Regions from separate parts of the Homo sapiens genome. Here region 2 is linked to region 1. The links come from fine-mapping of genetic effects on gene expression. A gene starts in region 1. The other region holds a variant in brackets. All regions are shown on one strand. Distances are between the middles of the regions.

Region 1 (5,393 bases):
CTACCCACCCTGGTATTCTGAGCACAAAGGGCATAAACTCTTGAGAGTTCTAGTGACTTACCCACTGCCGGTGCCTCTTCATACTATCACAGCTGATGCTCTCTAGAAAGAACTACCTCCTGGTAGGAGGCCAACCACACAAAAATAGAGCATTAAACTCCCAAAGCTAAGAACCCTCACAGAGTCCATTTCACCCCCCTGCCACCTCCACCAGAACAGGTGCTGGTATCCACAGTTGAGAGACCAACAGATGGTTTACATCACAGGACTCTGTGCAGACAACCCCAATATCAGCCTGGAGCCTGGTGGACTTTCTTGGTGACTAGATCCAGAAGAGAGATAACAATTACTACAGCTCAGCTGTCAGGAAGCCACATCCATAGGAAAAAAGGGAGAATACTACATCAAAGAAACACCCTCTGGAACAAAAAAGTCTAAACAACAGCCTTCAGCCCTAGATCTTTTCTCTGATAGAGCCTACCCAAATGAGGAGGAGCCAGAAAACCAACTCTGGTAATATGACAAAACAAGGCTCTTTAACACTCCCCAAACATCACACTAGCTCACCAGCAATGGATCCAAACCAAGAAGAAATCCCTGATTTACCTGAAAAAAAATTCAGGAGGTTAGTTATTAAGCTAATCAGAAAGGCACCAGAGAAAAGTGAAGCCCAATGCAAGGAAATCCAAAAATATGATACAAGAAGTGAAGGGAGAAATATTCAAATAAATTTTAATAATAAATAATAAATTTTAATAATAAATAAATAATAAATTTTAATAATAAATAAATTCAAACATTTGATACAGTTAGTACATAAATTTTGATGCATAAAAAAGTTAAAATGAAACACACTAATCTGTTCTGTATACACCTAAATGTAACTTTGACACTGAAATGGATTAAGACACTGCTCTTCTCTGAGGAACTGAGTTTTTATTCTAATTTCTGGATGTAGTGTGTGGGAATTATTATTTTTGCTGCTCTTTTTCTGAAAAAGATTGCCTTTCCCTAAGAGCTGTTGTTCCAATGAAAACCTAGTGTTTTCAACCCAGCATGAATGATGCAAGTGCTGAGGTCCTTTGGGCGAGACCCTCTGGGGTTATTGTAGCTCTCACTGGAGACGTGAGCTCTGCTCTCTTTTCAAAGTATCCATGAAGTCTCAACAGAACCCACCACACAACCCCCCACCCACCATGGTAGTTTGTCTTTCTCTTTGTCTTCTTTCCCAACCTCATCTTTATTGCCTGGATATAGCGAGGCCAGGGTAACCTTCTTGTCTCTATGTGGATAGTACGTTTGTACTTCTAGCCTTGGGATTTTTCCTTAATATTTGTCCATGCTAGCTGAGTTTGCCTTTTCAATAGCTCTCTTGACTAAATATACGGTAATTTCCAAGATATTTTGGTTTTATTTTATTTTATTTTTGCTTAGCTTTGCTTCAGGGGACTGAAGGTGAGGGATCAGTTCTTCATAGTGGAACACCTTACATCTTTCTCTGCCATCTTTGACGTTTATGAGGCATATTTTTCTACTTTGTTTGGTAGCTGTTGCTGAATTTGTTTCATTGGTGCTTTGCTCACTTTACTTACTTTTTTAGCTATTGAAGAAGAATGACTGTATCATGCTGCTGATTTCCCCGTCTTGGCTAGACAGTATGTCATCCTTTATCTACATTGGTCCCTGTAGTGAGGATCATGGAGTAGATGTTGCTGGGAGAGTGAGTATATGTGAAAAAAATGTGAAGGTATTTGGTGCTGATGAAGCAATATGCCCTACTGGGCAGGGGAGAGGCACAGAATAAGAATTCTTGCCATGTGGATGAACTCATTCAAACACAATGACTGCTTTATGAGACAATAGATAGATTTCTACCTCTTCTCACATGTACAGAGAAAATATTTCCAAAGTCTCCGGAATATTTACATGTATTACTATTTAATATAAACTTGCAAGTCTTTTTAAATGTGTTTAAAACTATCACAGTACTAAACATGAACTAGATGCATAATAAATGCTGAAAGTAAAAAGCCTGAATTATTTAAGTGAAAAGAGAAAAAGATTTAGATCCCAAATAAATGTATGCGTTTGTGTGTTTGTGTGTGTGCGCGCATGTTTGCTGGGCATGTACTTGTAAAAAGTAAAATAATAGAAAAGTATTATTCTTGGTACCCAGCATTCTAGGAATAATGTCTTCCACAAGATTATTAGAAAACTCTGCTACTTTGTAGGAGGAGCTTTGGATAACTATGAATAAGTCCCTTTACAGACTTAACTTTAAAAAACCATCTGATTTTTCTTTATTTTCTTTATTTTTATTGTAAATTGACATATTTTACTTGCATACATTTATGAGGTATCAGGTGTTGTTATGATTTATGACTACTATGTGGAATAATTAAATGAAACTAATTAACGTATTCAAATGATAATAAATATAACAGATAACAGGTAACAAATATTTTTTTATGGTGAGAATATTTGAAAGTTACTTTTTCAGCAATTTTGTAATGTACAATACACTATTATTAACCATATTCACAATGCTGTTCAATAGATCTCAGAAAAGCAGAACAAAACTTATTCCTCTTGTCTAACTGAGGTTCTGTAAACTTTCACCATCATCTCCCCATTTTTCTCCACCCAAACACGGAAGTATGTAAAAATTCTCAGTGCTTACAAAGTTTCATATACCAATTTTTGTAATGATACTTCCCCAGAACTCAATTTGACAGACTGAAGTATGTAGATAAGACAAAAAAAAAAAAAAAAAACACACAAACCAATGAAAATAAATATGTCCTTATTTGCATGTTTACAAATGAGAATTCAGTGTTTCCTTTCTCACCAGCTACAAAAGACTTCAGCCTACTGTGTATAAGGCACACAGCATCTGGATGAAGCTCAGCTGAGCTGTCTGGGGAAATACAGAGATTTTTATGAAGAGAGCTTTAAACCCAGCCATTAGCAAATCTGGATGGTTGCTGGTTTAACATTCCCTTTTTAAAGGGAATATATTATTGAATTTTCAAGAATCAGATATACATAGCATTTTAGATGAATGCATTAAGAAGTCTTCAGCAGTGATATTAGACATTGGGGCATGCTCTTACAGGCAATGGGTGGTGTCATAAAGAGCATATTTACATTCGTTTTAATTGTGGAATTTATAATTGGAAATTTAGGAAATAGTTTCATAGCACTGGTGAACTGTATTGACTGGGTCAAGGGAAGAAAGATCTCTTCGGTTGATCGGATCCTCACTGCTTTGGCAATCTCTCGAATTAGCCTGGTTTGGTTAATATTCGGAAGCTGGTGTGTGTCTGTGTTTTTCCCAGCTTTATTTGCCACTGAAAAAATGTTCAGAATGCTTACTAATATCTGGACAGTGATCAATCATTTTAGTGTCTGGTTAGCTACAGGCCTCGGTACTTTTTATTTTCTCAAGATAGCCAATTTTTCTAACTCTATTTTTCTCTACCTAAAGTGGAGGGTTAAAAAGGTGGTTTTGGTGCTGCTTCTTGTGACTTCGGTCTTCTTGTTTTTAAATATTGCACTGATAAACATCCATATAAATGCCAGTATCAATGGATACAGAAGAAACAAGACTTGCAGTTCTGATTCAAGTAACTTTACACGATTTTCCAGTCTTATTGTATTAACCAGCACTGTGTTCATTTTCATACCCTTTACTTTGTCCCTGGCAATGTTTCTTCTCCTCATCTTCTCCATGTGGAAACATCGCAAGAAGATGCAGCACACTGTCAAAATATCCGGAGACGCCAGCACCAAAGCCCACAGAGGAGTTAAAAGTGTGATCACTTTCTTCCTACTCTATGCCATTTTCTCTCTGTCTTTTTTCATATCAGTTTGGACCTCTGAAAGGTTGGAGGAAAATCTAATTATTCTTTCCCAGGTGATGGGAATGGCTTATCCTTCATGTCACTCATGTGTTCTGATTCTTGGAAACAAGAAGCTGAGACAGGCCTCTCTGTCAGTGCTACTGTGGCTGAGGTACATGTTCAAAGATGGGGAGCCCTCAGGTCACAAAGAATTTAGAGAATCATCTTGAATATATTAGAAAAAAAATAGCTCCTAAGAAATTCTTGTATGTTATATAAATTTATACTTCCTTAAGATTCTTTCATTGTGTATAACTTTGTGAATTTTACAAAGATATGCTTGGAATCAACACCATCCAAACATATCACAAATTAGGATATATGAAAGTATGTATATTACCATACAGAGAAGAATGCGAATACTATAAAGAGTTCTTATACAAACAGATAATATAGATTTTGTATCAATCATTCACCTTTTTTGAGATTTTTAAATGAGAAAACCTATAATGTATAAAATACATGTGTGTATGTATGTATGTGACACAGTTACTAAAAATAGGCTTCTTAAACTTACATCTCAATCTGGTAGATAAAGTACATAAAAGAATATGGAATTTTAGTACCTATATTAAGTGTTTTTAATTTTTGTATAATATTTAGTACCTGATTAGCGTGTATGCAAAAAAGTAATTTGCTTCGTTTGTTGAATTAGAAGCCAGCTGCCTTACTAAACTACCACATTTGCTTTGCTCATTCTCTTGGCTTTGCAGATAGAAAATTATATCATCTGCATATAGTGACTTATAATGATTATTTTACTTCTCCATTTTACTACTTGTAATTCTTTTTTGGTATCAGTTGTATAATGAAATGGTTTGAACATTCAAAGTGTTAAGTAATCCTGATCGTAACTGCTGTCTTTGCAAATGGAGTGTTTTCTAGTGTTTTAACAATAAACGTAATACTGACTCTAGCTTTGAGATAAATTCTTTTAAAAATATTCTTCAGGGAGAATATTTGTTTCCTATCTTCCTGTGTATAGTATTGTAATAAAATCTCTGTTAAAAACTATCAAATTTTTTGCTGTTTATTAAGATGATCATATTTTCCCTCTCCTCTGACCAATTAAAATAATGATACTTGTTAATGGTGGTACATAAAACAATGACATGTCTTCTAGTCTATGCATTCTAGATTTAATAAAATACAATATACATATTCATACACACGCACGCACACACACACACAGAGAGAGAGAGAGAGAGAGAGAGAGAGAAATAAAATTGCAACCTTAGAGGCAAATGGGAATTCAGAAAGCAGCTGCAAGGTAGTGAGAGGTAATCTCCAAAAGGGGAAGATAATCCCAGTTTGAATAACATGAAAAATTGTGTCAAAGAACTGTATGCCAGAAGACAGTTGATTCATTTTTTCAAGGGCTAAGGAATGTAACCGTAATCCTGAATTCTTTGCTAAAAATTTGTTCTGGGGTTTGAATTAAATAATAACATTCCCCTCTCCCCTTAAAAAAAGATGAGGGCTGTTTACTAA
Region 2 (5,393 bases), 210 kb before region 1:
ATACTTTAAGTTTTAGGGTACATGTGCACAATGTGCAGGTAAGTTACATATGTATACATGAGCCATGCTGGTGTGCTGCACCCATTAACTCGTCATTTAGCATTAGGTATATCTCCTAATGCTATCCCTTCCCCTTCCCCCAACCCCACAACTGTCCCCAGAATGTGATGTTCCCCTTCCTGTGTCCATGTGTTCTCATTGTTCAATTCCCACCTATGAGTGAGAACATGCAGTGTTTGGTTTTTTGTCCTTGCCATAGTTTACTGAGAATGATGATTTCCAATTTCATCCATGTCCCTACAGAGGACATGAACTCATCATTTTTTATGGCTGCTTAGTATTCCATGGTGTATATGTGCCACATTTTCTTAATCCAGTCTATCATTGTTGGACATTTGGATTGGTTCCAAGTCTTTGCTATTGTGAATAGTGCTGCAATAAACATACGTGTGCATGTGTCTTTATAGCAGCATGATTTATAGTCCTTTGGGTTTATACCCAGTAATGGGATGGCTGGGTCAAATGGTATTTCTAGCTCTAGATCCCTGAGGAATCGCCACACTGACTTCCACAATGGTTGAACTAGTTTACAGTCCCACCAACAGTGTAAAAGTGTTCCTATTTCTCCACATCCTCTCCAGCACCTGTTGTTTCCTGACTTTTTAGTGATTGCCATTCTAACTGGTGTGAGATGGTATCTCACTGTGGTTTTGATTTGCATTTCTCTGATGGCCAGTGATGATGAGCATTTTTTCATGTGTTTTTTGGCTGCATAAATGTCTTCTTTTGAGAAGTGTCTGTTCATGTCCTTTGCCCACTTTTTGATGGGGTTGTCTGTTTTTTTCTTGTAAATTTGTTTGAGTTCATTGTAGATTCTGGATATTAGCCCTTTGTCAGATGAGTAGGTTGCGAAAATTTTCTCCCATTCTGTAGGTTGCCTGTTCACTCTGATGGTAGTTTCTTTTGCTGTGCAGAAGCTCTTGAGTTTAATGAGATCCCATTTGTCAATTTTGTCTTTTGTTGCCATTGCTTTTGGTGTTTTAGACATGAAGTCCTTGCCCATGCCTATGTCCTGAATGGTAATGCCTAGGTTTTCTTCTAGGGTTTTTATGGTTTTAGGTCTAATGTTTAAGTCTTTAATCCATCTTGAATTAATTTTTGTATAAGGTGTAAGGAAGGGATCCAGTTTCAGCTTTCTACATATGGCTAGCCAGTTTTCCCAGCACCATTTATTAAATAGGGAATCCTTTCCCCATTGCTTGTTTTTCTCAGGTTTGTCAAAGATCAGATAGTTGTAGATATGCGGCGTTATTTCTGACGGCTCTGTTCTGTTCCATTGATCTATATCTCTGTTTTGGTACCAGTACCATGCTGTTTTGGTTACTGTAGCCTTGTAGTATAGTTTGAAGTCAGGTAGCGTGATGCCTCCAGCTTTGTTCTTTTGGCTTAGGATTGACTTGGCGAAAGCAAGAGCAAACACATTCAAAAGCTAGCAGAAGGCAAGAAATAACTAAAATCAGAGCAGAACTGAAGGAAATAGAGACACAAAGAACCTTTCAAAAAATTAATGAATCCAGGAGCTGGTTTTTTGAAAGGATCAACAAAATTGATAGACTGCTAGCAAGACTAATAAAGAAAAAAAGAGAGAAGAATCAAATAGACACAATAAAAAATAATAAAGGGGATATCACCACCGATCCCACAGAAATACAAACTACCATCAGAGAATACTACAAACACCTCTACGCAAATAAACTAGAAAATCTAGAAGAAATGGATAAATTCCTTGACACATACACTCTCCCAAGACTAAACCAGGAAGAAGTTGAGTCTCTGAATAGACCAATAACAGGATCTGAAATTGTGGCAATAATCAATAGCTTACCAACCAAAAAGAGTCCAGGACCAGATGGATTCACAGCCGAATTCTACCAGAGGTACAAGGAGGAACTGGTACCATTCCTTCTGAAACTATTCCAATCAATAGAAAAAGAGGGAATCCTCCCTAACTCATTTTATGAGGCCAGCATCATCCTGATACCAAAGCTGGGCAGAGACACAACCAAAAAGAGAATTTTAGACTAATATCCTTGATGAACATTGATGCAAAAATCCTCAATAAAATACTGGCAAACCGAATCCAGCAGCACATCAAAAAGCTTATCCACCATGATCAAGTGGGCTTCATCCCTGGGATGCAAGGCTGGTTCAATATATGCAAATCAATAAATGTAATCCAGCATATAAACAGAACCAAAGACAAAAACCACATGATTATCTCAATAGATGCAGAAAAGGCCTTTGACAAAATTCAACAACCTTCACGCTAAAAACTCTCAATAAATTAGGTATTGATGGGACGTATCTCAAAATAATAAGAGCTATCTATGACAGACCCACAGCCAATATCATACTGAATGGGCAAAAACTGGAAGCATTCCCTTTGAAAACTGGCACAAGACAGGGATGCCCTCTCTCACCACTCCTATTCAACATAGTGTTGGAAGTTGTGACCAGGGCAATGAGGCAGGAGAAGGAAATAAAGGGTATTCAATTAGGAAAAGAGGAAGTCAAATTGTCCCTGTTTGCAGACGACATGATTGTATATCTAGAAAATCCCATTGTCTCAGCCCAAAATCTCGTTAAGCTGATAAGCAACTTCAGCAAAGTCTCAGGATACAAAATCAATGTACAAAAATCACAAGCATTCTTATACACCAATAACAGACAAACAGAGAGCCAAATCATGAGTGAACTCCCATTCACAATTGCTTCAAAGAGAATAAAATACCTAGGAGTCCAACTTACAAGGGATGTGAAGGACCTCTTCAAGGAGAACTACAAACCACTGCTCAATGAAATAAAAGAGGATACAAACAAATGGAAGAACATTCCATGCTCATGGGTAGGAAGAATCAATATC[G/A]TGAAAATGGCCATACTGCCCAAGGTAATTTATAGATTCAATGCCATCCCCATCAAGCTAACAATGACTTTCTTCACAGAATTGGAAAACTACTTTAAAGTTCACTGATATCTTAAATAAGGCAGAAATGCTCTTTAACATCTGTAGAACTCAACATTGTTCTAGCACTTTTAGCTAATGTAATAGGACAAGCAATATAAACTCATCTAGGAACTGGAATGAGATAGACAAATTTACAGTATAATGATGTGATGATGTCACTGCTTAAATGAACACTCCTAAAGAATCAACAGGTACTATTAGCATAAGAAAAGATAACAAGGTTCTTCATATAACATCGATTTACCAAAAAACAGTGTATCTATTGCCAACAGTAAATTACAATATGTAAATTTAAAAAATTCTTTGGCCAGGTGTCATGGCTCATGTCTGTAATCCCAGCATGTTGGGAGGCCCAGGCAGGTGGATTCCTTGAGTCCAGGGGCTCGAGACCAGCCTGGGAAACCTGGTGAAACCCTGTCTCTACTAAAAATACAAAAATTAGCGGTGTGTGGTGGCACACACCTGTAGTCACAGCTACTCAGTAAGCTGAGGTGGGAGGATCTGATCTTGGGAGGCTGATGCTGCAGTGAGCCGAGATCGTGCCACTGCACTCCAGCCTGGGCAACTGGAGTGAGACATTGTTTCAAAAACAATACATGAAGAGATGTATCATGTTCATAGATAAACTGAGTATTATAAAATATAATTTCTTTCTAGATTAATATAGTCAATGCAAGTTGTGGCAAAGTCTTATTAAAGTTTTGTGAAAATTGTGAAAAATGACTTGAAAAATACATATAGAAAATTAACAGTTCGGAGATAGGCAAGAAAACTTGGAAAAAGAAGGAGGTAAGTTCTTTACTGGGTATCAAGATTTATTATAGTGTAATTATGAAAATTGAAAGAATTTTGGCACAGAAGGATGCAATAGACAACAAAAGGGAATAGTAAGGCAGAATATATTTAGGTAATTTACTTTTTGTGCACATGTAATTTGTCTTATAATAAGATTATCATTAGAAATTAGTAGATAAGATGTGTTTTTTGCAGTAAATTGTTTGGATAATGGACTTTTCATAAGGAGGAAAATCAGTGTGTAACTTGTATCACAAAAAATAGTCCAAAAGGACTAAGATCTAAACATTAAGAACAAAATTTAAAGCTAAGAAAAATGTAAATTATTTTATAAATTCAGGGTAGGTGAGGATTTTATCTGAAAGATACAAAAACCACGAAACATAAAGGAAAAGTTTGATAAGTTTTAAATTCCTTGGAAAGATCTGTTAATTAATCCAGCTAAGTTAGCTGTCTGACTCTAGTCTAATTATACATCTAGGCATTTGATAATGAATACAGAAAGAGTATTAAAACTAGGAATATATGGATGAAATTAAAAATACTCATTTTACCTAATAAAAAAATCATGTTCTTAGATGACATTCTCATTGTTGTGATGACATCAATTCTTGCCAAATTCAGGTATACATGTAAGATGTTAAGGCAAATATTGCCATTTTTTTTCTCATTTAGAGTAGTTTATTATGCTAAGGGCCTGGGAAACACTTTAGATTCAGTAAAAAAACTACCTAGAAGAATAAAGCAGAATGAATACTAGAAAAAGACTGAAAGAAAAAAAATGTGTAAAGACGCACAGAATGAGGAACATCTGTTGGTAAAATATATTATAAAAATACTAAAAAGGTATCCAGATAGTAAAAAGCTCAGAAACATGAAAAATCTCTTTCACTACTGGTAGAAGCATATAGTAGGATATAGTCAAAGCGAATTTAGCATAAAAATACATACACTTTATATCTATGTATCTATGTACACATACTTTTTGATATGCATGTATAACTACATATTTCTGAAACGTTTCTAAAAATAATCATAAAATGATTACAGATATGCAAAAACAGTTATAGAGCTATGTATAGTTTGTTAACATTAAGATAAAAGCCTTAACATTTTTTATGCTTAAAAACATTATAATGCTTCATTATAGCAGAATACACATTTGTCATTAAAAGAGATATAGAGCAGAATTTCTCAGAGTTCAGCAGAATATTCATAGTTGTTACAAAAAAAAAGTTCTTAATTTTTAAATATTTTAGGCAATGCTGGCTTAAGCGACTTTAACCTTTTTGTTTGTTTTTAAATCATAAGCTTTCTGTATACTCTGTTAGTATGTAAAAGGAAGTGCTCTATGTGGAGTTTCCCAAATTTCCTTTTCTGTGAAATCCTTTTCTGTTTTAGAAAATACCTTTTAATTCTAACATTTTCAGGAATTTAATTTGAGAAATTCTAATATTGAGGGATTATGTATCAGTGAGGAACAATTTCATTTTTTAGAACATGTAGACTGGGTATGGTGGCTCACACCTGTAATCCTAGCACTTTGGGAGGCCAAGGAGGATAGATTATTTGA

The links. PIP is the estimated chance that this variant, and not a neighbour inherited with it, causes the effect. A credible set is the group of variants that fine-mapping cannot tell apart.
Region 2: its variant is the best candidate, but not a certain one, in a credible set for the expression of TAS2R14 in blood mononuclear cells (TOPMed, PIP 0.72).

The regions. Positions count from the first base shown.
Region 1 is chr12:10,936,933-10,942,325 of GRCh38, reverse strand. It overlaps TAS2R14 (taste 2 receptor member 14), which reads left to right and starts at 3,063. Exons shown (of 1, transcript NM_023922.2): 1 at 3,063-4,916. The coding sequence starts at 3,119. The coding sequence ends at 4,072. It overlaps PRH1-TAS2R14 (PRH1-TAS2R14 readthrough), which reads left to right. Exons shown (of 5, transcript NM_001316893.2): 5 at 3,749-4,916. The coding sequence ends at 4,072. All of the region lies in intron 4 of PRH1-PRR4 (PRH1-PRR4 readthrough), which reads left to right. It also overlaps a transcript of PRH1 not described here. RefSeq lists a silencer at 209-409 and an enhancer at 1-416.
Region 2 is chr12:11,145,425-11,150,817 of GRCh38, reverse strand. The region is part of intron 1 of PRH1-TAS2R14 (PRH1-TAS2R14 readthrough); the gene reads left to right. The region is part of intron 1 of PRH1-PRR4 (PRH1-PRR4 readthrough); the gene reads left to right. It also overlaps a transcript of PRH1 not described here. Among named protein-coding and RNA genes, the nearest start is that of TAS2R30, 13 kb to the right of the region's middle. The variant G/A (reference allele first, on the strand shown) is at 2,924.